Homo sapiens: one gene and its partners. The protein of the gene in region 1 interacts with the protein of each later gene in a pairwise test. Each region holds a gene or a part of one and is shown in the gene's direction. Other genes may lie near its edges.

Region 1 (4,590 bases):
CCCAATGTCCGTAGTTTAGGATTCATTCCTGTTGCTGCACATTCTGTGGTTTTAATATTTAAAAATGTATAATGACATATGTTTACCACCATAGAATCATCCAGAATTGTTTTACTGCCTTAAAAGTTCTCTGTGCCTGATCTATTTATCTCTCACTCTCCCCAACCTTTGGAAACCACTGAACTTTGTACTGTTTCCATACTTTTGCCTTTTCCAGAATGTCATATAGATGGAATTATGCAATGTATAGACTTTTCAAATTGGCTTCTTTCACTTTGTAATATGTATCTAAGTTTCATCCATGTCTCTTTGTGGCTTGATAGTTCATTCCCTTTTAGTGCTGAATAATATTTTATTCTGTTAATTTATCCACTCTCCTTCTGAAGGACATATTGCTTGCTTCCCAGTTTGGGCAATTATGAATAAAGCTACTATAAACATTTGTGTGCAGGTTTTTTTTGTGGACATACCGTTTTCAACTCATCTGGCTAAATAACAAGGAGCGCACTTGCTAGATCATATGATGAAAGTATGCATAGCTTTGTAAGAAACTTACAAACTGTCTTCAAAAGTGGCTGTATCATTTTTCATGTCCATCAGCAATGACAGTGTGCTCCTGTTGCTCCACATCCTCATCAGTATTTGGGGTTATCAGGGTTTTTGATTTTGACCATTCTTATAGGTATGTAGTGGTATCACATTATTGTTTTAATTTGCAAGTCTCTAATGATATGTGATGTTGACCATCATTTCATGTACGTATTTGCCTTCCATATATATTATTTGTTGAGGTGCCTGTTTAGATCTTTTGTCCATTTTTAATAGGGTTGGTCAGTTCTTATTGTTCAGTTTTAAGACATTTTTGTATGTTTTGGTTAACAGTCCCTTATCAGATATGTCTTTTGAAAATAATTTTTTCCCAACCTGGGAGTTATCTTATTCTCTTTGTGGTATCTTTAGCAGAGCAGAAGTTTTAATTTAGCGAAGTCCAGATTATCAATTATTTTCTTTCATAGATGCCCATCACATTTTATACCAGAACTAGAAAAGATGAAATTCTTGGTCTGAAGTTGCAGTTATCAGTCAGCAGAAGAGACAGTCCACAACCCTGCTTGGAGTCCAGATGAGGATCCTGAGTGCAAACTTGGGACCTAAAGAGCCCAGGACAGAGAGAGCACTAAATGCTTCTAGGCAGGGGTGGTGGGTTGAGGGGCCCCTAGACTTCCCTCATCTGGGTCCCAGAAAACTAAAGAGTCAATTTCACAACACCAATAGAGGGAGGCTCAGGCCCTGCCAAGAGCTGACATGACAATTCTAAAGGTAATCAGAGTGGATCCTCTCCAAGCCAGAACACAGAAAGCCCCACTGCGAGCCTTGTTGTCACCCAGTCAGCCCCAGGCAGGGTTGGCAAGCTGCAGCCTAAGGCACATTGTAACTTCCTCAGCTGGCTTCTCAGGGGACAGAATGACTAAGAACAATAGCCCAGTGAATACTTAGAGCAGTGTTCTCAAGGAATCCTGCAGAGGCGGCTTCTGAAAAGCCAAGGTAGTATCTGCCTGCTGAAGGTGTTCTCAGGATTTCATTTGCTCTTCTCCAGGAACCACATCACCTGCCCTTCTGCCTACACTCCTGCCTGCTGTGCCTAACCACAGCCATCATGCCTCGGGGTCAGAAGAGTAAGCTCCGTGCCCGTGAGAAACGCCAGCGGACCCGTGGTCAGACCCAGGATCTCAAGGTTGGTCAGCCTACTGCAGCAGAGAAAGAAGAGTCTCCTTCCTCTTCCTCATCTGTTTTGAGGGATACTGCCTCCAGCTCCCTTGCTTTTGGCATTCCCCAGGAGCCTCAGAGAGAGCCACCCACCACCTCTGCTGCTGCAGCTATGTCATGCACTGGATCTGATAAAGGCGACGAGAGCCAAGATGAGGAAAATGCAAGTTCCTCCCAGGCCTCAACATCCACTGAGAGATCACTCAAAGATTCTCTAACCAGGAAGACGAAGATGTTAGTGCAGTTCCTGCTGTACAAGTATAAAATGAAAGAGCCCACTACAAAGGCAGAAATGCTGAAGATCATCAGCAAAAAGTACAAGGAGCACTTCCCTGAGATCTTCAGGAAAGTCTCTCAGCGCACGGAGCTGGTCTTTGGCCTTGCCTTGAAGGAGGTCAACCCCACCACTCACTCCTACATCCTCGTCAGCATGCTAGGCCCCAACGATGGAAACCAGAGCAGTGCCTGGACCCTTCCAAGGAATGGGCTTCTGATGCCTCTACTGAGTGTGATCTTCTTAAATGGCAACTGTGCCCGTGAAGAGGAAATCTGGGAATTCCTGAATATGCTGGGGATCTATGATGGAAAGAGGCACCTTATCTTTGGGGAACCCCGAAAGCTCATCACCCAAGATCTGGTACAGGAAAAATATCTGGAATACCAGCAGGTGCCCAACAGTGATCCCCCACGCTATCAATTCCTGTGGGGTCCAAGAGCTCATGCAGAAACCAGCAAGATGAAAGTCCTGGAGTTTTTGGCCAAGGTGAATGACACCACCCCCAATAACTTCCCACTGCTTTATGAAGAGGCTTTGAGAGATGAAGAAGAGAGAGCTGGAGCCCGGCCCAGAGTTGCAGCCAGGCGTGGCACTACAGCCATGACTAGTGCGTATTCCAGGGCCACATCCAGTAGCTCTTCCCAACCCATGTGAGATCTAAGGCAAATTGTTCACTTTGTGGTTGAAAGACCTGCTGCTTTCTCTGTTCCTGTGATGCATGAATAACTCATTGATTTATCTCTTTGTTGTATTTTCCATGATGTTTCTTAAAATAGAAAGTTTATTTAGATTCAGAATATAAATTTAGAAATGGCATGCATCACACATTTATTGCTGTTTATCAGGTTGGTTTAGTGATAATAATTTTGTTTTTGAAATACAAATAGAAAATCCTGAAATAATTTTTGTGATACAGAGCAAAATAACACGGCATGGGAGTAAGGTTATCCTTAGAAATTTAAAATAACTCCACAGTAAAATAGGTAGAATCTGAAGATAGAAAGGGAAGAAAAGTAAAAGTTGCTTTATTCGTGGTTTGTCTTACTCAGTTCAGTCTTTTTTTGCTCATAAATTTAAAAGTTACATACCTGGTTTGCTTAGATTATTCAAGAATGTGGAGGCCTGGGCCAAGGTCAATGACAGTGTCTCCATTGTCTTCCCTCCATTAAGAGAAGACTTTAAGAGATGAGGGAGAGAGAGCCAGAGACAGTGTTGCAACTGGGCCTGGCATGTTTCAGTGTGGTGTCCAGCAGTGTCTCCCACTCCTTGTGAAGTCTGAGGTATATTCTTTACTTTTGATTAAGAAAACACTTAACCTTCTAATTAATGGAGAGCCAAAGGGGAGTTGGTGGGAACACCATGTATAACATATTTGTATGTAAAATGATTTATCTTTTCTTTTTCCTGTTTTTCAGTGTTCTTTTTTTAAATTGTAGATTTATTTAGTTTCAGAATCTAAGTTTATGAATGGCATGAATCACTCATTTATTAAAATATATCAGGTTGGAGAGTGAGAATTTTTGCATTATGTAAAACAATTTAAAAATCTTTTAAGTCTTTTTCTGTGATCTAGAACAAGATAATATGGCATTGGAATATGGAATTTGTGAAAAGGAAATTACCTTGCAATAAAGTTGGTGGGACCAGGAAGTAGAGAAAAAAAAAGTAAAATGTGGTCAATTCTTGCTTTGTTTTATTCTTTTTAGTCTTTCTTTGTAAAACTGAAGTATATGTACCCGGATCTGCTTAGCTTTTTCAGGAATGTGGGGGAAATTAAATAGCAATACATTTGACTTCCTGGTCACTTACACTTCAATTGTCCAAATATTAATTGAGCAGCTGTACTTTGGAGGGCTCCTGGCTAGTACCGGATAAGCTAAGAAAACAAAAAACAAACAAACAACAAAAAAACCCCAATCCCTGCCCACAGAATTTTAGAATCCAACAGCAGCTATCATATAACGAAGGTAATGAGATACTCCTTAAGACCTAAAGACAGGTGAAAAGGGGATAAAAAAGAAGGTGGGGGTATTACCAGCAGTGGAATCTAGTGTAAATGTCCTAAGCAAGGTAACTGAGACTTCGGGAAACTGAACATACTGCAATAGGAGGTAATTTTATGTCCTGGCATAGTGCCTATATGGGGCGCACTGAGCAGGGGTCACACACTCAGATGGTGGATCTCACACTTGAGAGATGGAGACTGGAATGAAAAATTGCCTTTAACAGTTACTTTGGGATTGTGGAAAAACCAGAGGGGATCTTTGCCTGGAGCAGGGATTGAAAGTGGCCGGTGCTCTTGTCCCAGTGCAAGTGAAGTGAATCCAGTACACAAACTAGGTGTTTTATGAGCGTAGTCCCCAGGGTGTTTCTGAGAAATAAAGGTGATACTCCTTTAAGACTGGAAACTCATAAGCCACTGGGCTAATACTCTGCTATCAGCTGGGGAGCCAGAACCCATTCCATTAAAAGGAATTTTTTTTCCTTTCATGTGTTTTTGCAAATTCTAAGGGAGATCTAGATTTTTGATGGTGGTAAAATGAATG
Region 2 (4,298 bases), on another chromosome or scaffold:
CTACTAGGTTGTGTGCCCAGGCAGTGCACTCTTAGTTGGGGATACAATTATGAATAATATACAGCCTCTACCCTCAAAATCATCAGTCTCGTCTGGTCAGCGTGTTATGAGGCACTTGTACAGAGTGCTGTGGATGCACAGATGAGAGGCAATTATGTCTGCCCATGCAATCAGGGAGGGCTTCTCAGAAGAGCTGGCATTTGACTGGGTTCAGCAGAGAGAGGTGGCAAAGGGCATCTTAAACAGAAATGGGGACAGAAAGAGGTGAGCTTCAGCTCAGCATTTATTTAGGGACTGGCAAGGTTTCTGACCAGCTGCAATGGGAGCTGGCATGGGAAAGAGGGCCAGGAAAGGAAGCTCAAAGTAGGGCAGGATTATAGAGCATCTGGGCCACCCTAGAGAGCTGAAGCTTCCTGCAGGCAAGGTGCAAGGGTTTTTTGTTGTGGTGGTTGTGTGGTTACTGTTAGTGCTTGTTTGCTGGATATTCATTTACTTTATTCTTTGCTAATTCTTGCTGTCAGAAAAATGATTCTAGGTGCTTCAGAATGGAGAGGAATGTCTCAGAGAAAAACTGAAAGATAATTTTATCCAGTAGCTTTATTTTGCAAATCAGATGACCATGAATATTTGCTTTTTACCAACACACTGTCCTGGTTCATCCTGGGGTGGTTTCTATTGACAAGCTGATGAAGCTTTTTTAGCAGAGAGAACAAATTCCTCGTGAACTGCATTAAACAAGCCCTAGCTGAAGAAATTTGCAAGTAGTTGATCATTAGTTTTCAGTTATAATACAAAGATTATGTTGGACTAAGCTTTCTTGGACTGCCCCCGGGTAACATGCCCTAGAGATCTTTTTTTAAACGCACGAGGACCTTCATAAACTCCCATTGAAGGATGGTATAAATCAGCCTTGATATGAAACAGATTTCACTCCAGAGTGAAAAATGTTAGATTATATAAGTACACATAACTATACATGTGTCTCTAAGGTGTCATTAAATGTTTTTGCTCAGCAGGTAGACCATTTAAAATCCTGAAAACTTGAAATGATAAGTAATCAAGTAAATAGCACAGATTCTGAATACTCAGGTGGCTGTAGGCAGTTATCCTGTGGCTCAGAAGGCGCATAAAGATAAATGATTTCATTGTGGATCACATGCTATTCCTTGAAAACAGCCTTCGGTGCATAGGTATTTTTCATATGGACAGCTTTGTGCATCAGCTACTTTTGTTTTCATTTCAAGCCATTTCAAAAACTATTTATATATCTGGATTTTACCTTGTCATATAGAAAGTCAGTTTTATAGCCAGACCAAACAGTTAAAACTGGAGAATAAGATGAGAAATACATCTTCCTTGATATCTTATTTTCTTTTCCTACAAACTTCTTATTTCTTCTGTGTAGTCAGAGAGTGGTTTCATTTGATCTGCATCTCAGGCTAATAAAATTTTTATTTTTTTCTAACTTTTAGGTGGAAATGCATTTCCAAAACCACCAGCTGGCTAGAACTTTACTGGACCTAAACATGAAAGTGCAGCAATTGAAAAAGGAGTATGAACTGGAAATTACATCAGACTCCCAAAGCCCAAAAGATGATGCTGCGAATCCGGAATAAAGAAATGCACACGCAAGGGCTGGGCGCGGTGGCTCACGCCTGTAATCCCAGCACTTTGGGAGGCCGAGGCGGGCGGATCAAGACGTCAGGAGATTGAGACCATCCTGGCTAACACTGTGAAACCCTGCCTCTACTAAAAATACAAAAAATTAGCCAGACGTGGTGGCAGGCACCTGTAGTCCCTGCTACTCAGGAGTCTGAGGCAGGAGAATGGCGTGAACCCAGGAGACAGAGCTTGCAGTGAGCCGAAATCCTGCCACTGCACTCCAGCCTGGGTGACAGAGCAAGACTCCATCTCAAAAAAAAAAAAAAAAAAAAAAGCACACGCGAAGCTCTGGATCCTAAAACTAACGCATACAACCCTGAAACAATTCTGATGAACACATTATGCTTTGCATAAGTTTTGAGGGGCAATTTATAGACCCAAAACAAATGACAGGGGAAGGTGACAGAAAAACATCTAAGAGAGGGGAGAGAAAAATGATGTATTACCAAGTTTTAAAGTTATTTATTTGTTATTTTTACTGGGACATAGAAGTAAAATATAACTATAGATAAATCTCTCTCTGTCTCTCTCACTCAAAGAATGCTTTAATGCCAACTTTCGGTATTCAACCTTGTGTCACCTGACCTTTCTGGCATTGCCTGAGCTTTCAGAGTTTGTGCTTGTTTTGTTTTACTTGATTATTCTCAGTTTGTCTGTCCAGCAGCCTGCCCTGCTTCTTGTGGAGAATTGTTTCTACTTGGATTCTAACCATGCCCTTTAGGTGGTCTGTGACTAAGGGTATTCCATCTTCCTGGATATAGTCATGCAGCTCAAGGCAGGCAGATGGGTTTGTCCTTAGGATTTTTGAATGGGCACTAAAAGAGTAGATGACTATTTCTGCCAGTAGAAGCTGTGGATCAGGGGCTTGGAAGCTGCTGGTGGTCACCATGTGAGAAAGCCCACACCCTAATGGAGGTGACTGAAACGGAACCACTAAAAGCACAAAAGGGGAGGGAGGGAGGGAGGGTGCTTCGCTTCCTTGTTCCTGGGGTCAAGCTGTATAAGACTCCAGGCCTTGCTCTTGTTTATGTACATGAAATATTCTGATATCCTTCTCATAAAATCTCTTTTTGCCTAAGTAAATTCAAGCTGGAGTTTCATGACTTGTATCTAGTGTTCATAACTAATACAGTTGTTCAGTTTTAGGAGTTAAAATGGTTCTTACTGTTGAATTGGACTATCTAACTGTACCCGAAAAGTGCTGTCTTTTTAATGCAAACAGTAAAGTTAATAAAAAATAGTTGCAGATCTAAGTGATATTTATAATGGTTATTGTCTGCAAAATACAAATTAATTTATAACAAGCTATGTAATTTTAATATTTAATAAACTATAAAAATCAGTTCTTGAAGACAAAGGAGAACAGAAGAGACACAGTCTTTCTCTTGTTAAAAGAAATACAAGGACAAGCATGGTGGATCACGCTTGTAATTCCAGCACTTTGGGAGGCTGAGGTGGGCAGATTGTTTGAGCTCAGGAGTTTGAGACCAGCCTGGTCAACATGGCAAAACCCCATCTCTACTAAAAATACAAAAATTAGCCAGGCGTGGTGGTGCTCGCCTATAGTACCAGCTACTCAGGAGGCTGAGGCATAAGAATCACTTGAACCTGGGAGATGGAGGTTGCAGTGAGCCGAGATCATGCCCCTGCACTCCAGCCTGGGTGACAGAGGGGGACTTGGCCTCGAAAAAATAAATAAATAATAAAAATAAAATAAATGCAAGTTGTTTTATGTGTGTGAGGATCTGAGAATTATCTGGACTAAGTTTAGTTTGTCCTTAACTTTTTTGTCCACAATAAGTAAATTATTCTAGCCCTTTGGTACTTAATTTCCCTCTGTATAAATGAGGAATTACCAAATTCAGCATTGGCAGATGAGCAGTTGCCAGCATCTCAATATCTGACCATTGTGTTCCTTCACACATTTTACGTATGAGCTCTTGGCCTATAAATATACGACTACTATATTAAATTTCATTTGTAAACTAGATTTCCTGTTTATTTCTTCCTTTGAATTTTATAGAAATTTTTAGGAAAGGGTTGGCATAGTTCCTTGTGATCTGTTTTTTGAAAAAGCTTCCACTTAACCTTTGGGACAATCATTCTCAAGTGCATTTTAAAGATTAACATTTATAAATTGTTGTAATTTTGTGTTTAAAAAATACTCGAGGTGATTCATTGTATGAGCTCAATTCCTTACAGAATACAGACTGCTGATGTTGGTTAATACTAATGTCATTTGATTATACTGATAATATATTGGGGATCAAAAGAAAGAAAATTTAAAAGAGAAAGTATGAAAATTGATGCATTGATTTTCACATTTTTAGATTTAAAAAGGTCCATTATTGTATTGCAAAGTTTTGATCACCACTTTTTCCCCACATCTTTTAGTGATGAACTTTGGATCACTGTATTTTTTAGAGGCGACAGATACAGAAACAGAACGAGAAACTCCTTTGTGTCCAAAGTGTCTTGTTTATGGAAGTCTGAGTCAGTGGAGGTGGCCTCTGATATTAACTGTGCAATGTGGAAATACAATGGGAGATTGATACATGGGACACTATCATTATTAAAAGTTTTTATTTTGTTTTCTCTCCAGTATGCTATCTCTTGCCTTTTGTTTGTAAAGTAGC
Region 3 (4,794 bases), on another chromosome or scaffold:
CTTTTAGTCCATGGAATGAATCTGGGCAGAGGATAAAGCCAAAAGATGGGTGCTACTTAGCAAATCAAAGGAAATGACTTTAAAAGCCTGGCTCTCTGATTTATAGAGAAGCTTGTTGCTATGTGATGAGGCGGAGGAGAGTAACAAAAGGGTGTTTGAAGATGTAACATATGCAGATTGCACCCAGTGGCCTCTGGAGGATGGGACAGCCTGCCCTGGTGATGTCTCCCAATGATGTTGTCTGTAAAGGGTTATGGATTGGTGAGCTCTGAATAACCCTTAGGTCAGCGCTCACTACTACTTACTTTCCTGAGAAGCCCAATCTGGACTGAATTCTCAGATTCTGTATTTCTTCTTGATAGAACTCCAATAGCCTGTGTTTCACATATGCACGTCTGATCCCTATAGAGGTGTATGTTCAGCTTTTGTTCAATGCTCAGGGGACTGGCAAAAACTCATTTTCCCAAAATTCTAGTTATAATCACTTTGGATTGTTCCACATTAGGTTTTTCTTAGTCTCAGGGGTCTATGTATCTTCTGTCACAAATTTTGGGAGAAAAGTTTTGGGATCTCAGCAGCCATGTGTCTTGGATCCCTAGTACCAAGAACTATCTGAATGTGGAATGTGTAATATAACCATTTTAGGGACAGGACTTTCCCCTGGCATCTTCTGATTTAGCCCTTGGAGAAACTCTGTTTTATTGTATGAATACCTCCACATCTGTATTTTCTGAGATACAAAGGGAAAAATACACAATGTCAGATTTTTGTTTTACATCTTAATTTCAACTTCTTGCCCGGTTTCTAGGAATTTGAATCCTTCTTAGTTCTAGCAATGACACAGTAGTTATCCTTGGGGTGGAGGATTTGGAGGTGGTCAAGGTGAAGAAACAGTTTCTGGAGTTGAAAGAAGCTGATGTTGAGAATAGGCTTTATACTTTATAGTGAGGTTGATCTTAGAAAACTGTCCTCAATGGCTTGTTTATTTATTTTGTAAAATTAAGAGTACCCACCTCCCAGGTTGGAAGTAAAGATTAAAAGGTATCATTGCTCAATCCCCTAGCTCATAGGGTGAAGGCTCATGACTGACTTTAGAATAAAGGAAGCAAGGTATGAAGAGAGCCCACAGAGGCTCTGATCACTCAATGTCCTTTGACTTTCATGACCAAGTTCTTATTTGAGGTTCAGTAAGATTATTGCTCATTTCTCTTTGTTTATTTCTGGCTTCTTGAGCTTGCCCTTCTTGGTCGAGATAAGCCATGGTTTTTGGAGTCATCCTCATTTTCATGAGCTTCTCAGATACCTTGTTTGAAACATCACGTCTACCCAAGTTACAGTTGTTCCCCAATGGCAGGAACTATTTTGTGCTTAACCAACTATATATCAAGCATCAGCAAGGTGCGTAGCATATGGGACGTAGCCAGGGGATGTGTTTTGAGTGACTGGATTCATCTAAGTCTTGTTGCTCCTCAAAGTGAGTCTGAAAGGCAACCAACTAAAGAAAGAAGAAATGTAGGACTTCTTGATAACCCAAGGCCATAACATCCACCAATTCCAAGACTCAGTTTCTTCCCTGGATAGGGAAGGCTGGTTGAGTCTTAACCCAAGTGAGAACCATTGTCATCACCGGGGTTAGTCCTCCTGCTACACCACTGACCAACAGGAAAGTTTGTGTCTCCAGAGTGGACACATCCATAAAGAGGCCAAACCCAGTCAAGGTCTAAGCATCTGATGGCTATAACTTTGCTTCTTTGAAAGATAATAAAAAGCTTCTGACCTCCCATCAACAGCCAACCTGATTTCAAAGAGCCAAGAGGCCTCAGATTCGTCAACATTCCTTTAACGAGCTGAGAAACTTTTCATGGTAAACTCAGCAGCTGAGTAACAGGATGATGGCACCACAACAGGTAGATAATCAAGGCAGGAGGTCAAAGCATTGGAGCCAACACCCGCCCAGGATGGGGTATAAAAGGGCTGGGAGGAGAGGAGGCTTCAGTCTCAGTGGTTCAGCTTTCCCAGCTGATCTGAAGCTCCTGTGCAGCCTCAGCCCAACACCATGACCTCTTCCTACAGCAGCTCCTCATGCCCTCTGGGTTGCACCATGGCTCCTGGAGCAAGAAATGTCTCTGTCTCTCCCATCGACATTGGGTGCCAGCCTGGGGCAGAGGCCAACATTGCCCCCATGTGCCTTTTGGCCAACGTGGCACATGCCAACCGAGTCCGTGTGGGGTCCACTCCCCTGGGCCGCCCCAGCCTCTGTCTGCCGCCTACCTGCCACACTGCTTGTCCCTTGCCAGGGACCTGCCACATTCCTGGCAACATTGGAATCTGTGGGGCCTATGGTGAAAACACCCTGAATGGCCATGAGAAGGAGACCATGCAGTTCCTGAATGACCGCCTGGCCAACTACCTGGAGAAGGTGCGCCAGCTGGAGCAGGAGAATGCGGAGCTGGAGGCCACACTCCTCGAGAGGAGCAAGTGCCACGAGTCCACCGTGTGCCCCGACTACCAGTCTTACTTCCACACCATCGAGGAGCTCCAACAGAAGGTGAGGTGTGGGATCGCTTGGGTGTGCTGGGTCTGAGATGGCAGAGGCAAGACAGGAGGAATCCATGTAAAGCTCAGAGAACTTTGGGTTCTTGGTTTCTCTTGGACATGATCATAGACACCACACGTGGAGAAGGAGCCTAGGGCATGATGCTTTGTGTGTGAACTGTCTTCCTGTTCTCCTCAGATCCTGTGCAGCAAGGCCGAGAATGCCAGGCTGATTGTACAAATTGACAATGCCAAGCTGGCTGCCGATGACTTTAGGATCAAGTAAGTCAGGCGGAGGAGGGCCAGGGTGACTCCTTCCCCACCCTCCATCCCAATGCCCAAATACTTGTTGAGTGAGGGAATCATTGTCATTTCTTCCTTGCTAGATTCTCTACAGTAAAATTTTCATTACAATCGAAGCTGATGGAAGATGGAAGGGAAAACTCCTCATTAATCCAAGCATATATGTTTGTCTTCCTTCATTTATTTCCCTAAAATGGAGGATAAGGCAGCCTGAGTTCATTAACCAGGAGCAAAATGAGGTGATTTGAAGGATGAACTGAGCAAGACAGCCATTGGGTTTCATATATAAGTCAGAGGAGTCACTTACAGATGAGTCTTTGTCCAGATTTAATTAGGGAGCCCTAAGGTACCAGGTATAAGGTACCTAGGCAAAAATGAGAGAGGGGAAGACAGCTGAAAGCAAGGGATAAGGAGCCGCAGATCACGATCAGGCACCTGGTTATTGCTTATCTTTGGTAACTGACAGCCCCTGCAATGGCATGAGCGTTGGACTGGGTCCCAAGATGCATGATCTTACGCAAGTCAGTTGATCTTCCTGAACTGCAGTTGCCACAGAATACAATGGCAAAAATGTATATTGTGCAATGTAGTGTTGTGATTTCTCCATTAGACCATGAGCTCTTTGAGAAGAGGGGCTGGGTCTAATTCACCTTTGAGGACAGAGGGCTAAACAGAGTGAATAAATGAGGATCCAAGGTGGTGTGGGAGGTAGGAAGCCAGGGCAGCCGAGAGGGGCTCTTGGGGGCATTCTTTTTGACCCTGTACCTCCTGTGATGAAAGGCTGGAGAGTGAGCGCTCCCTGCGCCAGCTGGTGGAGGCAGACAAGTGTGGGACACAGAAGCTCCTGGATGATGCGACCCTGGCCAAGGCCGACCTGGAGGCCCAGCAGGAGTCCCTGAAGGAGGAGCAGCTCTCCCTCAAGAGCAACCACGAGCAGGTGTGGCCCTGGGCGCTCAAACTCCTGGGGAGGGCACTGGGCAGACAGGGGAGCTCCCCAGCCCCGGGCTCTCAGAGCATTGCCTGGCCTCAGCTGGCATCAGGATGCAGGGCTGAGGTGGGTCTGAGGGTCCAGAGGGCCTCTGTGGAAAGTGCAGACTTGCCTTGGGCATGAGGAAGGTGTGCAGGTGGGCTCTCCCGAATGCCCTCTGGGCAAGACTTTCCCATTTGCTTGTGTGTGGGACTCCCCTCCTACTGCTTGCCAGGGGCGGGGTCCTGGTGCTGTCTGCTCCATCAAAGGCCCTTTCCTCATGCAGGCTGTCTGTCCCTTCCTCCCTTCTGCAGGAAGTAAAGATTCTGAGGAGTCAGCTGGGGGAGAAGCTCCGGATTGAGCTGGACATTGAGCCCACCATTGACCTGAACAGGGTGCTGGGGGAGATGCGGGCTCAGTATGAGGCCATGTTGGAGACCAACCGCCAGGATGTGGAACAGTGGTTCCAAGCCCAGGTGAGTGGGGGGGGTATAGAACCAGGGGGTACCTGGCCTCCATCTGGGCAGGGAGGTGACCGTGTCTCTCTGTGCTCCAGTCTGAAGGCATCAGCCTGCAGGACATGTCCTGCTCCGAGGAGCTGCAGTGCTGCCAGTCGGAGATCCTGGAGCTGAGATGCACGGTGAATGCCCTGGAGGTGGAGCGCCAAGCCCAGCACACCTTGGTACGTGTCCTTCACTCTCACTGCACTGCAAATGCCCCGTGCCATGGCCTAGTAGCATTTTATTTTGGAGGTCTCACTACCCAAGTTTCTCCCACCTGTTATCACCATCAAAATTTGAGGCATGTAGCAGTTTCCCTTGGGGCCTTGTATATTTTATCCCCTTATTTCCCACTACAGAAGGACTGTCTGCAGAACTCCCTGTGTGAAGCCGAGGACCGCTTCGGCACGGAGCTGGCCCAGATGCAGAGCCTCATCAGCAACGTGGAGGAGCAGCTGTCTGAGATCCGGGCCGACCTGGAGCGGCAAA
Region 4 (3,316 bases), on another chromosome or scaffold:
GGTGTTTGTTAATTTCTCCATCCTTGGATTTCAGATATCTAGTACTTCTGAGTTTTTCCCTAGAACAAAATATACAGTATCTATGCTCAACTTTTTCTATAAGAGCCTACAAAAAAAATTCAAAGTCTATTTTTGAAAATGTCATCAAAGAGAAAATGCTTAAAATAGATGCATTTCTCAATTACCTGCTAAGAAAATATGGTAAACAACATCTATATCTAAATTTCATGTTAAGCACTAACCAATCTCCTTTTTCAAATAAGGAATCAAGGGAGGGAAGGAGGGAAGGAGGGAGGGAAGGGAAGGAAGAAATATATCTATCTCTGGAGGCCTATGAAGGGAATTGTGGTCTATGTACCTGCAAATGTATATAATATATTTTTTAAGTTTTATAATATATATCTCTTTAATATTATTTTCCTCTATTTTCTTTCTACTAACTTATATAATCATTTAAACATGGCCATGGAAGGAAAAGGAGGAAAGGAACTAAAGGAGGCATATGTTACAGACTGAATAATAAATAACAAGGAGAGAGATTATAAGAATGTAAATTCCTAGGAATTCAAGATGCCACCAGTTGTGCTTTTTGTTTGGTTTGGTTTTAGTTTTGGTTCTGTTGAATGTCAAGGTCATGGGCAAATGTGAGATATTACAATATAGGTTGGTGATTTTCTGAATAATCCATAAGGCTAACATGGTAATGAAAATAAATCCATTAGTAGAGTACTTTATGGTTTACTGAGAAGTTTCTTTACATACATGATCTCATCTGTCCTACAAAGTTCTGTGAGATAGGCAATGTAGGTTGTATTATGGCTGTTTCACAGATGAGGAAACAAAAGCCCAGAGAGGCTGAATAGCTCACCCTGCTGTGAAGTGCTAGAATTGAAATTCTAAACAAGATCTTTCTTCCATTGTTCTCTCAACTACAAAAAGTATCCAAAGATGAATACGCAACCCCCTCTAGTACCTGGTTGAAAAACAAAACAAAACAAAACTTAGGAGAACATCGTTTTCATAGCCTAATATCTTCACCTGTGTTCATACTGATTAATGTGTGCTGTTGTTTTATCATTTCAGGATTTGTAGGTGAAAATGCCCAGCCAATCCTAGAAAATAATATTGGAAACCGAATGCTTCAGAATATGGGCTGGACGCCTGGGTCAGGCCTTGGACGAGATGGCAAGGGGATCTCTGAGCCAATTCAAGCCATGCAGAGGCCAAAGGGATTAGGACTTGGATTTCCTCTACCAAAAAGTACTTCCGCAACTACTACCCCCAATGCAGGAAAATCCGCCTAAGAAAAGCAAAGAAGAAATGTTTTACAGACTTTATTCACTATGTCCCATTGTTCTAAAATGATAACATGACTTCTGTTTTTGAAGCAAAAATCTACATTGCCTCAAACACATCACTCTAGCTTCCTTACTGCATACAGTCCTGCCATAGTGAGAGAAATGGGATTTCATCACAATTCATGGTGCTAAAATGAAAACCTCTGCACTTTAATTTTTTTCAGTAATTTCCAGCTATTTCTAGGTATAAAGAGCAGCTCGTTTCTCTTATTTATTTTAGTCTCATGTGTCAATACTTTCCGATGCTTTGCTTAATTCATGTATGTGTGCAGTGCTGCAATGCCCAGACAAACGTGAGCACACCCACCAGTTTCTAAAATGGAATAGACAGGAAAAGATTGTGTTTTATATCATCCCTATCTATTGTAACCCAAAAGACCTACCATCGCATCAGTGAAGTCCGAACACATCTTTGTTTGAAAGGCTTGTCAATTTCATATTCCTTGAATTGGCTTCTTGGTGAGGATTTTCTGACAGAGTGATACCCATCAATTTTCTATCCTTAGACAATGTAGTGTGAAGTTCACAGTTGACAAACAACAATTAATGTTTCCCTTGGATGTTTTGACAAAAATAAACCTCATCGTTGTTATCACCAGAGTGCCCTCTACCTTACTTTAATGCAGATTTTATAAATTTTACCTCATTTAGAACATAAAATAATTATTGAAAGAAAAATGTATTTTTTAAATTCACCGTGATTGAACTGTAAATTCTATTAATCCAGATGTACTTCTACCTCTGTTTTCCCAAAGATTGATATTATTTTTAAGATCAACTCAAGTGTAGTAAACGGATTTAAAATTTTAATCATTGGAGTAATTTATTACAATATTGAATCAATTTACATGAAAAGTTAAATGGCTCTCCCAGAACTCAGATTTCTGGCAATGACCCAACCCATTTAGAAGGTGAACAAAAGAAGTAAATGGTACTGATTTGCCCTTTCTAGGACCCAAGATGTTACTTTAAAACCTAGCAAAAGAGGTCGTTTGTATTACGTGCCTAGTATTGAGCTGTTTCTGAGTCATTTGCTTCATAGTATCAGAAATTCTAAATTGCTTTTAGTTTAGAAGATCTTTATTTATTATCTTCATTATTAACAACTTATTATGATGATGATTATTATCATTCTATTTATAATGGCCTTTGCTGGTTGAGTAAAGACTGAGATAACACATGTGAATCACCTTTCTAATGGGTTTTTAAAATCTTGTCACTTTCCAAAAGAGTTTTTTTGTTTCTTTTTTTTTTTTTTTTTTTTTGACAGAGTCTGCCTCTGTCGCCCAGGCTGGAGTGCAGTGGCGCACTCTCGGCTCACTGCAGCCTCCCCCTCCTGGGTTCAAGTGATTGTTCTGCCTCAGCCTCCCAAATAGCAGGGATTACAGGCACCCACGACCATACCCGGATAATTTTTGTATTTTTAGTATAGACGGAGTTTCACCATGTTGGCCAGGCTGGTCTCGAACTCCTGACCTCAAGTGATCCGCCCACCTTGGCCTCCCAAAGAGCTGGGATTACAGGCATGAACCACAGCGCCCAGCCCCCAGAAGAGTTTTTAAAAGGTGTTAAAGGAGGTTTATGCACGTAACAGACCTTTCTCAGGTGGTCCCCTAAAAAAAATCCTGCCAACTAGGGAGGGGAAGTCCAACCTGCTATTTGAAAGCCTTCACGGTTTGCCAAATGTACATTTCTTGAGAATTATCTTCTTTCCCAGGGATATTGTACCTAGAGGACAGGTTGGTTAGGGAACTATGGACGACCAGAAGAGATGTTCTTTTGAAGCATTCTTACTGGATAAAGTAACCCCATGGTATCATTACTTTCTACAAGTTTTTTACTTACAAATTTGCCATTTTTTTAACTGATATTTTCTAAATGCTCATTCTGTCTATGTAGCCGGGGGGAGATTATATACAAGTTTTAAAACTTCTTTGTGATAGTGTATTGTGCTCTGG
Region 5 (4,017 bases), on another chromosome or scaffold:
TCTTGAACTCCTGGGTTCAAGTGATTCACCTGCCTCAGCCTCCCAAAATGCTGGGATTATAGTTGTGAGCCACCGTGCCCAGTCTTATCATCCTCATTCAGTAGATGATTAAATGGAGGCACAGAGAGGTAGAGTGACTTGCCCAGGGTCACACAGCAGGGAGCAGCAGAGGTAGAAATGGAATCCACGTCTGTGGGATTCCAGAACCTGGATCTTTTGTGCCATGCCCTCGGCTTACTTACAGAGCCTGACATGTCCACACATGCACACACGCACACATGAGCACACACACACTCTGTCTCTCTCCGTCTCACTCATTCTCTCTCTCCCACTGTCCAGATCTCCACATACATCACAGTGCCCCCGTCCCCACTGATCCAGACCCTGGTGCAGGGGAACATCTTGGTGAGCGATGATGTGCTCATGTCTGCCATGTCAGCCTTCACATCCCTGGACCAGCCCATGCCCCAGGGCCCCCCACCTGTGCAGGTAAGAAGGTGTGGGCTTCTCACAGGGTCTTGATTCCAGACCTGTACATTAACTCCTGCAGATTCAGAATCTTGTAGAATAAAGGGGGCCTGGCCCCAGCTCTCCCTGATGCTGAGGGAGGCTATCAGCTTTCCCTTGTCCAGCTCTGCTATAGATGGGGAAGCTGCTACGTCTAGGTGGGGACCCAGAACATGTGGGGCTTTGTCAATACAGTGCAGCTATTTTGACTTTTTTTTTTGAGATGGAGTCTCACTCTGTTGCCCAGGCTGGAGTGCAGTGGCACGATCTTGGCTCACTGCAACCTCTGCCTCCTGGGTTCAAGTGATTCTTCTGCCTCAGCCTCCTGAGTAGCTGAGATTACAGGCATGTGCCACCACAGCCAGCTAATTTTTTTTTGTATTTTTAGTAGAGACAGGTTTTCTCCATGTTGATCAGGCTGATCACGAACTCTTGACCTCAAGTGAGCCCCCCACCTCAGCCTCCTGAAGTGCTAGGATTACAGGTGTGAGCCACTGTGCCCAGCCAATTTTTGTATTTTTAATGGAGACGGGGTTTCACCATGTTGGCCAGGCTGGTCTCAAACTCCTGACCTCAGGTGATCCTCCCACCTTGGCCTCCCAAAGTGCTGGGATTACAGGATTACAGGTGTGAGCCACTGCACCCAGCCTGACTTTTGTTTTTGTTCTTTTTTTTTTTTTGAGACAGAGTCTTGCTCTGTTGCCCAGGCTGAAGTGCAGTGGTGCGATCTTGGCTCCCTGCAACTTCCACCTCCCAGGTCCAAGCAATTCTCCTGCCTCAACCTCCTGAGTAGCTGGGATTACAGGTGTGCGCCACCACGCCCAGCTGATTTTTGTATTTTTAGTAGAGATGGGGTTTCACTGTGTTGGTCAGGCTGGTCTCAAACTCATGACCTCAGGTGATCCACCTGCCTTGGCCCAAAGTGCTGGGATCACAGGTGTGCGCCACCGCGCCCAGCCTTGTTTTTATTCTTAACAAGTGTCCCATGTCTATTAGAAAAATAGAAAATGCACAGTAGCTCCCTGGGATTTAAAAAAAAAATTTTTGTAGAGATGACCATCTCCCTTTGTTGTCCAGGCTGATCTTGAACTCCTGGGCTCAAGGGATCCTCTAGTGTCGGCCTCTCAAAGTGCTGGGATTGTAGACGTGAGCTACTGCACCTGGCCAGGATTTTTTAATACAAAAAAGATCTGTGGCCAAAGGAACCTAAGGTGGAGGTGTTTTACTTCTCCCCTTGCTGTGTCCCTGGATTCTTCCTGCCATATAGAAATCCTTTTGATTTTCTCAACCGAGACTTTTTTTTTCCCTGTTTGGGAACCCAACGAACACAGTGAAGAAGAGGACCCCGTGTCCTTTATGAAATGCTGATCAGCATCATGTTTTTATTTTTGAGACAGCGTCTCACTCAGGTCACTCAGGCTGGAGTACAGTGGTAGGATCATAGCTCACTGTAACCTCAAACTCCAGGGCTCAAGCAATCCTCCCTGCTCAGCCTCCTGAGGAGCTGGGACTACATACATGGTGCCAACATACTTGGCTAATTTTAAAAAAAAATTTTTTTTTTTTTGAGATGGAGTCTCGCTCTTGTCACCTAGGCTGGAGTGCAGTGGCACCATCTCGGCTCACTGCAATCTCCGCATCCTGGGTTCAAGCGATTCTCCTGTCTCAGCCTCCTGAGTAGCTGGTATTACAGGCACCCGCCACCATGTCTGGCTAATTTTTGTACTTTTAGTAGAGACAAGGTTTTGCCATGTTGGCCAGGCTGGTCTTGAACTCCTGACCTCAGGTGATCTGCCCACCTTGGCCTCCCAAAGTCCTGGGATTACAGGCGTGAGCCACCGTGCCTGGCCTAAAAAAATTTTTTTTTAGAGACAGAGTCTCGCTATGTTACCCAGGCTGGTCTTGAACTCCTGGGCTCAAGCAATCCTCCTCCCTCTGTCTCCCAAAGTGCTGGGATTACAGGTGTGAGCCACTGCACCCAGCAGTACCATCATTTTAACAACTGCAAAGGATTCCACCATATGGATAGGCCATCTTCTGCTTAGCCAAGTTTCTATGTATAGACATGTAGGTCATTGCTGTTTTTTGCTTTTATGAAAATGGCTGGAGTCACTATCCATAAACAGACATCTTTGCCCACCTGCTTGATTTTTTTTGTAGCATAAATTTCTAGAAGTTACTGGCTGCGTTTCACGACTACCCACACATTCATGATTCTCTCAAAAGACTCACGGGACTCAGAGGTAGTTGTACTCATGGCTGTGGTTTATTACAGCAAAGGAACACACAGCAAGATCAGCAAGGGAAAAAGACACATCAGGTGGAATCTGGAGGAATCCAGAGTTCTCTGTCTTGGGGAGGTGGGGAGAGGTTGCACAAAACACACTTCTTCCTGCAGCAGTGAAGTCTAGCAACATGTGTGCTGTGTTTCTACCCAGGGAAACACACTTCAGACTCCAAAGCCAGGGTTTTGTTTGTTTGTTTGTTTGTTTGTTTTTCTGAGACAGGGTCTCACTTCAGCTGCCCTGGCTGGAGTGCAGTGGTGCAATTTCGGCTCACTGCAACCTCCACCTCCCTGGGCTCAGGTGATTCTCCCACCTCAGCCTCCCAAGTAGCTGGGACTACAGGTGTGCACCACTATGCCTGGCTAATGTTTTTGTATTTTTAGTAGAGATGGGGTTTTGCCATGTTGCCCAGGCTGGTCTCAAACTCCTGGACTCCACCCGCCTCAGCCTCCCAAAGTGTTGAGATTACAGGTGTTAGCCGCTGCACCAAGCCCAAGGCCAGGGTTTCTGTTAGGGATTGGTCATGTAGGTGACCAGCCACCATGACCAAAATTCCAGACTCCCAGAAGAGAAGGAAGTGTTCACCATGAATCACATATTTTGTCCAAGCAGTCTACATAATCTGGTACAATAGAACAGTGCCCCAGGTGGGCAAAATAAGCCTTATCAACAAAGGAGATGTCCCACAAACCAGATTCTCAGATCCCAGTCACGAGCTAGTGCTGCAAGCAAGCCCCCCCCCCTTTTTTTTTAATTTTATAACTTTATTTGAGGTATTTGATGATCAGCGATTAGTTCTCATCCACATTGACTGTCTGTAGATTTTTGAAAGTGGTAACAGGTACATAGGTAACCAAAGTATAGAGCTTATTTGGTGGATCTTCATCCTCATAACATTTTCTGGACAACCGCACACGGATGCAGTATGGGACATTCTTTATTCCTTTGTCTCAGACAGCTTTGTTGAGGCTGGTATCAATGCACACATCTGGAGTTCCCATCTCCTTCATGGCAAGTTTCCGAATCTCTTTGAGTGCCTGAGGAGCACGCTTCTTGAAGCCACTCCATGGATGCACTTGTGAATGTTGATGGTGTATTCTCAGGTCACCACCTCATTGATGGCCGAATGACCCTTTTTCTTCTCGCCACCCTTCTTTCTGGGAGCCATTCTGCTGGGTCCAAGATGGAAAGGGAAGCCCTTCTTAAGATAGCAACATTAGGCTGC
Region 6 (3,370 bases), on another chromosome or scaffold:
GAACGTTGCCCTTTAAAATCCATTCCTGACCCCTGCGTACCGCTTCCTGGCCTGGGGAATAGAGTCCAGGGGGCCACCCTCAGTCACCTTCCTTTGACTCTCCCCACAGACACAACAGAACCGAGCGCAGCTGAAAGAAGTAACGTGATTTGTTTGCTCACGACATGACTGCTGGGTTTGGAGGGCACTCAGATGTAGAGGCCCGTCTCATCTCGCCTACTCCCAGCTTGGGGAAGAAGGCTCACCGCCAAGATTCCACCCCATCCCCACAGGGTCCCTGATAACCTGGTCCCATGGGTGCGCCTGTCCTGGGGCATTGGTGCCATTCTGGGGGCATGTCTCTTGCTGTGGATCTCTGCCTCCCCCTAGTAAGAGCTCTGTCTTCCTCTTTCTATAGGAAAAGAAGGCAAGCCACCAACATCAGGAAGCCCTAAGGCGGGAGATAGAGGTGAGTGGAGGGTGTGAAGTTCCCTCCTGTCCTCTGGAGAAGGTTTTTTTGCTTCTCTTTCAGCACTTGCTTGTCTTTTCTCCCAAAGGCCCAGGATCATACAATACGAATTCTCACGTGTCAGAAAACTGAACTGGAGACAGCGCTCTATTACAGCCAGGATGCTGCCAGGAAATTTGAAGATGGGAACCTGGGCACCCCATCATCCTTCAACCTGGCACTTTCACAGGCCTTTAGGGGGAGTCCTTTGGGCTGTGTCTCAACCTCTCTCATTCCAGGAGAGTCCAAGGATCTCGCCGGCCGCTTGCATCATTCCTGGCACTTTGCAGGAGAGTTACAGCGGGCTCTCTCTGCTGTGTCCACATGGCACAAGAAGGCAGACAGGGTAAGTCCAATCACCTCCCCAGTCTCCTGGGATCCCAGCTTCGCAGATGGAGGAATGAGCCTAAAGGTCCCTCCTGCAGGATGCAGTGTCCTGCCCAGAAGATAGTATGGGTCATTTCTTGCTGCTTTTGTGTGTGGTTATTAGAGGCAGGTTGGGGCTGAGTCAGCTGCTGTGGGTGAGTTGGGGGGCACTGTGGGGAGCGAGCACTGGACACAGAGCTCCAAGGCCAAGAGCCTGCCCTGCCCATACTTGGCTGTGGCCTTGACCAAGTCCTAGGCAGGGGTTAAGGTATTTGTACCATGAAGGTACAGAAGAGTATCTTTAGTATGTTACCATTTGTGTAGAGAGAGGGAACACACATAAGTGTGCATGTGCGTGTGTGTGTGTGTGTGTGTGTGTACGTATTATGGTAACATACATAAAAACATATTTGTAAGGATTCATAAAAAACTCAGGAGACAGGAACAGTGTGTGTGGGGTAGATATTTCCCTTCTCTACCTTCTGAGTTTTGGACTATGCCAATGTATCGTTCTTTCAAAAAGTCAACAAAGGATTAATTTCCTCCTTCTTATCTGTGCCCCTACCCCCAGGGAAAGAATGGGCTTAGAGAATCAGATACACCTGGGTGTTGAAATCCCAGCTCTGTCAAAGTGATCTTAGGCAACCATTTAACTTTTAATACCCCATGTTTTGCATCTATACAATAGAGGTAATAATGGTAACCGTCTCCTATGGAGGTTGTGAGGATTAAATGGGATTGTTAGCATAGTGCCTGGTGAAGCACTCAAGAAAGGTTCCAACAGTGGCAGTAATAACAGTAATAGCAATAGCAATATTATCTGATCTCTCTGGGCCCCTGTTAGCCAGCTATCAATTCAGTCTCTTTCCCTGTCCCTTCTACCCTTACTGAGTTCTCTGAAAAACAAGTGAGAGCCAGGTGTGGTAGCGCATGCCTGTAATCCCAGCTACTTAGGAGGCTGAGGCAGAATTGCTTGAACCCGGGAGGCAGAGGTTGTCATGGGGCGAGATTGCGCCATTGCACTCCAGCCTGGGCAACAAGAGCAAAACTCCATCTCTAAAAGAAGAAAAGGAGAAAAAAAAAAAGAAAAAAAAATGAGACCATGGGCTTGGAATTGCCTTGAGAACATGTCGGGTGTGATGGAGAGTGAGGGAGTGTTACTGTGGAGTATCAGTGTAGCTGTTGTTCCTGGTCGGCCAGCTGCTCTTCTGCCTGCTCTGTCCTGACTTAACCTTTCTCTATTTGCAGTACATCGAGGAGTTAACAAAGGAGAGGGACGCCCTGAGTCTGGAACTGTACAGGAACACGTAGGATGGGGGAAGGTGGGATGGGAGGTCTGGGGGCCCTTAGCGTGGGTGGTGTGCTGGGAGGTGGGGGGTACAGGTGAGCATGGTAGGGGGTCATACAGGTTTACATGTGTGCACAGGGAAGCTCTAGTGCCGGCTGTGCCACTGACTCATGGGGTAGCCTCAGGCAACTCATGTCTTCTCTCTGGCCTGCCACCTGGGACTTTTAATTCCTGGGGTCCCTTCCAGTGCCACGGTTCTGTGCTTGTGGGGCGAGAGTAGAGGGTTGATCACCAAAGCAGTCCTTTCTGTTCTTCGTTCATTCCTTTCTCTACTGCCTCGGGCCATAGCATAACCAATGAGGAGCTGAAGAAGAAAAATGCCGAACTACAAGAAAAACTTCGACTTGCAGAATCTGAAAAGTCTGAGATCCAGCTCAACGTGAAGGAGCTAAAAAGGAAACTGGAGAGGGCCAAGTTCCTGCTGCCACAGGTGAGCGGCTGCAGCCCCAGGGGTTGTGGGAGACCCATCCAGCTAGGACCATGGTCTAGGGATCATGCAAGGTATGGGGAGGGTCCAGCCAAGAGCTGGAAAATTTGGGTCCTTGTTCTGGTCCCACCATAGAATCCTCTAGAGTGTGCTAAAAATCTACAAATTTGGGGCCCTGCCTGGGAAATCAGAACCTCAGTGTTAAGGCTTAAAAATTTTTTTTAAAGAATCATAGATGAAAACTGTTATTTTATAGATTACATTTATATAGCTAGTTCATAAGTCTATTTCCTTTTGAGGTTCAAACCAACACTTTGCAGGAGGAGATGTGGAGGCAGGAGGAGGAGCTACGGGAGCAGGAAAAGAAGATACGGAAGCAGGAGGAGAAGATGTGGAGACAGGAGGAGAGACTGCGGGAGCAGGAGGGGAAGATGCGGGAGCAGGAGGAGAAGATGCGGAGACAGGAGAAGAGGCTGCGAGAGCAGGAGAAGGAGCTGCGGGAGCAGGAGAAGGAGCTGCGGGAGCAGAAGAAGCTGCGGGAGCAGGAGGAGCAGATGCAGGAGCAGGAGGAGAAGATGTGGGAGCAGGAGGAGAAGATGCGGGAGCAGGAAGAGAAGATGTGGAGACAGGAGGAGAGGCTGTGGGAGCAGGAGAAGCAGATGCGGGAGCAGGAGCAGAAGATGCGGGACCAAGAGGAGAGGATGTGGGAGCAGGACGAGAGGCTACGGGAGAAGGAGGAGAG
Region 7 (4,017 bases), on another chromosome or scaffold:
TCGATCTCCTGACCTCATGATCCGCCCGCCTCTGCCTCCCAAAGTGCTGGGATTAAAGGCGTGAGCCACCGCGCCCGGCCGAAAATAGGGTTCCAGAGCGATTCTCTCCTCAGTAGAGTTTTTTGTTTGTTTTGAGACGAAGTCTTGCTCTGTCACCCAGGCTGGAGTGCAGTGGCGAGATCTTGGCCCACTGCAACCTCCTCCTCCTGGGTTGAAGCAATTCTTCTGCCTCAGCTTCGCGAGTAGCTGGGACTACAAATGCCAGCCACCACACCCGGCTAATTTTTGTATATTTAGTAGAGATGGGGTTTCGCCATTTTGGCCAGGCTGGTCTCCAACCCCTGATCTCAAGTGATCCACCAGCCTCAGCCTCCCAAAGTGCTGGGATTAAAGGTGTGAGCCACCGTGTTTGGCCGACAATACCATTTTTTTAGGGCCAGAAGCACCTAAGAGAGAGTTGAACCCTAACATCAAAAGCATATTAGGGAGGTGGAGGTTGGTCTGTTTCTCCAGAACACCCACCCCAGACTCTAGGGCCTTTGTCCTAATGGCCAGCTTCCTCTTGTGTCTCCCTAGCTAGACAGACCTCACTGTGCTGCTCAGTAGTGGGGGTAGAGCGGACTTTTCTTCCAATAGGAAGTCAGAGAATCTAACAGGAGATTCTTGGCCTTGGCACGCAGTTAAGGATCAGTTAATAGTTGTTGAATAGATCAAGGAGACGTAACAGCTAGGATCATTCTAGAACTGGAAAGATTGGCAAAAGACATGCCCATAGTTCCACATGTGAGCTCAGGGGAGCAGGGTAGATCTTCCCCTGAGATGCCCTCACCACTCAGCATCTATCTATGAAGCGTGTCCAAATTTGTCTTCTTTGAAAGTCTAGATTCTATTCTAATTTTTAAAAAATATCCAAACAGGGCCAGGTGTGGTGGCTCATGCCTGTAATCCCAGCACTTTGGGAAGCCAAGATGGATCGCCTGAGCCCAGGAGTTTGAGACCAGCCTGGGCAACAGAAAGAGACCCCCATCTCTACATTAAAAAAAAAAAAAAAAAAAAAAAAAGCAGGGCATGGTAGCCCATGCCTGTAGTCTCAGATATTAGGGATGCTGAGGAGGGAGGATTGCTTGAGCCCAGGAAGTCAAGGCTGCAGTGAGCCATGATCATGCCACTCCACTCCAGCCTGGGCAACAGAACAAGACTGTCTCAAAAACAGAAAGGAAAACCCCCCAAACCCCAAATGTTTAGTTCTGTACACATAAGAGATACTTAGCAAAAGTTTGTTGAATAGATGAACTGCTGCCTTACTTATGCATGAATACATCAAATATCTATTGAGCTTCGTTTTCAGGCACAATACTAGATCCTGGAGCTGTAATGGTGAGCAAACCAGATATGCTCTCTGCCTCGATAAAGCTTATAACCAAGTGAAGGGGAGACTTAAGTACACACACACATATAGCAAAGTACAAGGTTTTATGAGACCATTTAATAGAGGACTTCTCTTATTTTTTTTTGAGGAAGTGGAGGTACAGGCTAGAAAAGTTGACATCTGAGTGGTGAGTAGAATGAGCAGAAGTTGGGGGAAGGGGATGGGAGAATGTGCCTTGCAAAGGATTTATGGGAAAATCCTGACCCTCCCAACCCAATCCTCATTAATTCTCTAATCCTGGCCCTCAAATCCTAAATTCACTGTTGGTGTCAGTGCCTTTTACTCTCTCCACTTTTTCGTTCTGATCCCAGATGGGTACATGTGTCTAGAAACTCTGAGATGCTCCATAGATACAGAGAACTCTTAACTCATTATTTTGTAAATTAAAAAATAGAAAATATAGGCTTGTTCTGAAAATCCAAACAGCACAGATAGATATGATATGTAAAGTAAAAACCTTACCACATGTTATCCCATACCTCAGAAACAACTACTCATTATGGTTTGGGCATAGATCTTTCCAGGCCTTTTTCTATATGTTTGTCCATTTGTGTGTTATATACTATACATAAAATATTTTTTGCAAAAATTAGATCATAGCATATATTTTACAGCTCTTTTTCTTCAGTTAATATGGAAACTTCTTTGTTTTCACCATAGATCTGATACTTTCTTTTAAATGGCTGCATGATATTCTATTTAACTATCATCAGTTTATTTATTTATTATTGTTATTATTTTTCGAGACCGAGTCTCACTCTGTTGCCCAGGCTGGAGTGCAGTGGTGCGATCTTGGCTCACAGCAACCTCTGCCTCCCGGGCTCAAATGATTCTCCTGTCTCAGCCTCCCAAGTAGCTGGGATTACAGGGGCGTGCCACCACACCTGGCTTTCTTTTTTTTTTTTTTTTAGCGAAGACTGGGTTTCACCATGTTGGCCAGGCTGGTCTTGAACTCCTGACCTCAAGTGATCCACCTGCCTTGGCCTCCCAAAGTGCTGGGATTATAGGCGTGAGCCACTGCTCCCAGCCTATCATCAATTTAAACAATCCCTTATCGACTGACACTTAGATTATTATCCCGTGTTTGGTTATTATGCAGTGAACTTATATTTGAATTTGAGTTGTGAACTCTAAATGCACATTGTTTTAGGTCCAGTACTTACCACAGGTAGGTCATGGGAACTCTGAGGCTCTGTAATTTCTGAGCTCTCAGGATGAATAGGTGAAAATAGTCTGTATACATTTTTTGAGTCAGGGGATTTTTAGAAAGATTCAGGGCATCAAGAAAATACTATAAATGAAGTTAGGTCTTTAACTGTCAGGTGATTCCTTAGAAGCATGAAATACTTTTTGTTTACAGTAGACTAAGTGATTGTTTTGGTGCCAGGCCTCAAAATCTACTTTTCTATTGGACCTTACTACATAGAGTCACTCTCTTTTCCCTTCTTAGGTACTCCTTTTATTCCGTCCGGCATGATGCTACACTTCTCTGATGGGGTAGAGACAAGGTTTTCAGGACTTTGCAGACAAGAAATAAGTCTCCCTTTAATTTTGTGCCTCTAGAACATGGTAGGTTAGTTCACCTGCCCTCTTGATCATCTCAACCTTTGGACTTTGCAGGTGAGCTGCGTTCTCTACGGGAGGAGATTTCCCTGTTAGAGCATGAGAAAGAAAGCGAACTTAAGGAAATAGAACAGGAATTGCATTTGGCCCAGGCTGAGATCCAGAGTCTGCGGCAAGCAGCAGAGGATTCCGCAACTGAACATGAGAGTGACATAGCATCCCTGCAGGAGGATCTCTGCCGGATGCAGAATGAACTTGAAGACATGGAACGCATTCGGGGAGATTATGAGATGGAGATCGCCTCCCTCCGTGCAGAAATGGAAATGAAGAGCTCTGAACCATCCGGTAGTTTAGGTCTCTCAGATTACTCTGGGTTACAAGGTATGAGAGCCATCAAGTGGGTCAGTAAAGTCAAGCAGAGGAAAGGAGATAATATATAGGAAAATGGTAGAAGGTGGTGTTAGATCATGAATTGGGAATCTCTAGAAAAAACCTCCAGGTTGAATTCAAGACTGTAGGGGTCCAGGCGTGATGGCTCATGCCTGTAATCCCAGAACTTTGGGAGGCCAAGATGGGAGGATCACTCGAGCCCAGGCATTCATGAGCAGCCTGGGCAATGAAGTGAGACCCTATCTCTTTCTAAAAGAAAAATTTAAATAAAAATTTTAAAAAGACAGTAAAGGGGAAAAACCTACCCAGATGTTACATAACCAGTCCATGGTGGTGTAAGAAATAGCACCATGGAGAGGTACCCTGGGAATTCTTCAGAGAGTCATTGGGTCTTTGTTGATTTGACTATGGGAAAACCCTTCCTGGGAAAATTTCCAGCTCTAGGATGGGCAAAGAGGGACCTGTCACCTTGGGAAACTCTTCCTGCTGCCCTGGCATCATGGTGCTTTGCCTGGAATGCTTTATAGGGGGCCTCTGGCCCTGCTTCCAGGTGCAGGGATGCTAATTCTTAGGTTCCATTAGCTCTCCTCAAAATAGAAGCTTTGGGGGGCAACAAATCGGAACAAAAGACAGCT

Evidence for each region.
Region 2: the proteins of MAGEB4 (region 1) and AARD interact in binary tests that used the Homo sapiens proteins (3 or more experiments, as listed by UniProt).
Region 3: the proteins of MAGEB4 (region 1) and KRT38 interact in binary tests that used the Homo sapiens proteins (3 or more experiments, as listed by UniProt).
Region 4: the proteins of MAGEB4 (region 1) and GPATCH2 interact in binary tests that used the Homo sapiens proteins (3 or more experiments, as listed by UniProt).
Region 5: the proteins of MAGEB4 (region 1) and ZNF341 interact in binary tests that used the Homo sapiens proteins (3 or more experiments, as listed by UniProt).
Region 6: the proteins of MAGEB4 (region 1) and GOLGA6L2 interact in binary tests that used the Homo sapiens proteins (3 or more experiments, as listed by UniProt).
Region 7: the proteins of MAGEB4 (region 1) and CCDC136 interact in binary tests that used the Homo sapiens proteins (3 or more experiments, as listed by UniProt).

Annotation. Positions count from the first base shown.
Region 1 is NC_000023.11:30,240,479-30,245,068, forward strand, and holds MAGEB4 (melanoma-associated antigen B4), read left to right. Parts: upstream 1-1,521; 5' UTR 1,522-1,657; coding exon 1,658-2,698; 3' UTR 2,699-3,709; downstream 3,710-4,590.
Region 2 is NC_000008.11:116,941,086-116,945,383, forward strand, and holds the end of AARD (alanine- and arginine-rich domain-containing protein), read left to right. Parts: intron 1-1,472; coding exon 1,473-1,616; 3' UTR 1,617-3,402; downstream 3,403-4,298.
Region 3 is NC_000017.11:41,438,184-41,442,977, reverse strand, and holds the start of KRT38 (keratin, type I cuticular Ha8), read left to right. Parts: upstream 1-1,994; 5' UTR 1,995-2,056; coding exon 2,057-2,548; intron 2,549-2,734; coding exon 2,735-2,817; intron 2,818-3,618; coding exon 3,619-3,775; intron 3,776-4,119; coding exon 4,120-4,281; intron 4,282-4,361; coding exon 4,362-4,487; intron 4,488-4,664; coding exon 4,665-4,794.
Region 4 is NC_000001.11:217,429,133-217,432,448, reverse strand, and holds part of GPATCH2 (G patch domain-containing protein 2), read left to right. Parts: intron 1-1,083; coding exon 1,084-1,304; 3' UTR 1,305-3,316. UniProt on the Homo sapiens protein: Enhances the ATPase activity of DHX15 in vitro.
Region 5 is NC_000020.11:33,748,584-33,752,600, forward strand, and holds part of ZNF341 (zinc finger protein 341), read left to right. Parts: intron 1-339; coding exon 340-489; intron 490-4,017. UniProt on the Homo sapiens protein: Transcriptional activator of STAT3 involved in the regulation of immune homeostasis. Also able to activate STAT1 transcription.
Region 6 is NC_000015.10:23,441,240-23,444,609, reverse strand, and holds part of GOLGA6L2 (golgin subfamily A member 6-like protein 2), read left to right. Parts: intron 1-109; coding exon 110-139; intron 140-397; coding exon 398-448; intron 449-536; coding exon 537-833; intron 834-2,101; coding exon 2,102-2,160; intron 2,161-2,489; coding exon 2,490-2,631; intron 2,632-2,927; coding exon 2,928-3,370.
Region 7 is NC_000007.14:128,798,137-128,802,153, forward strand, and holds part of CCDC136 (coiled-coil domain-containing protein 136), read left to right. Parts: intron 1-3,049; coding exon 3,050-3,373; intron 3,374-4,017. UniProt on the Homo sapiens protein: May play a role in acrosome formation in spermatogenesis and in fertilization.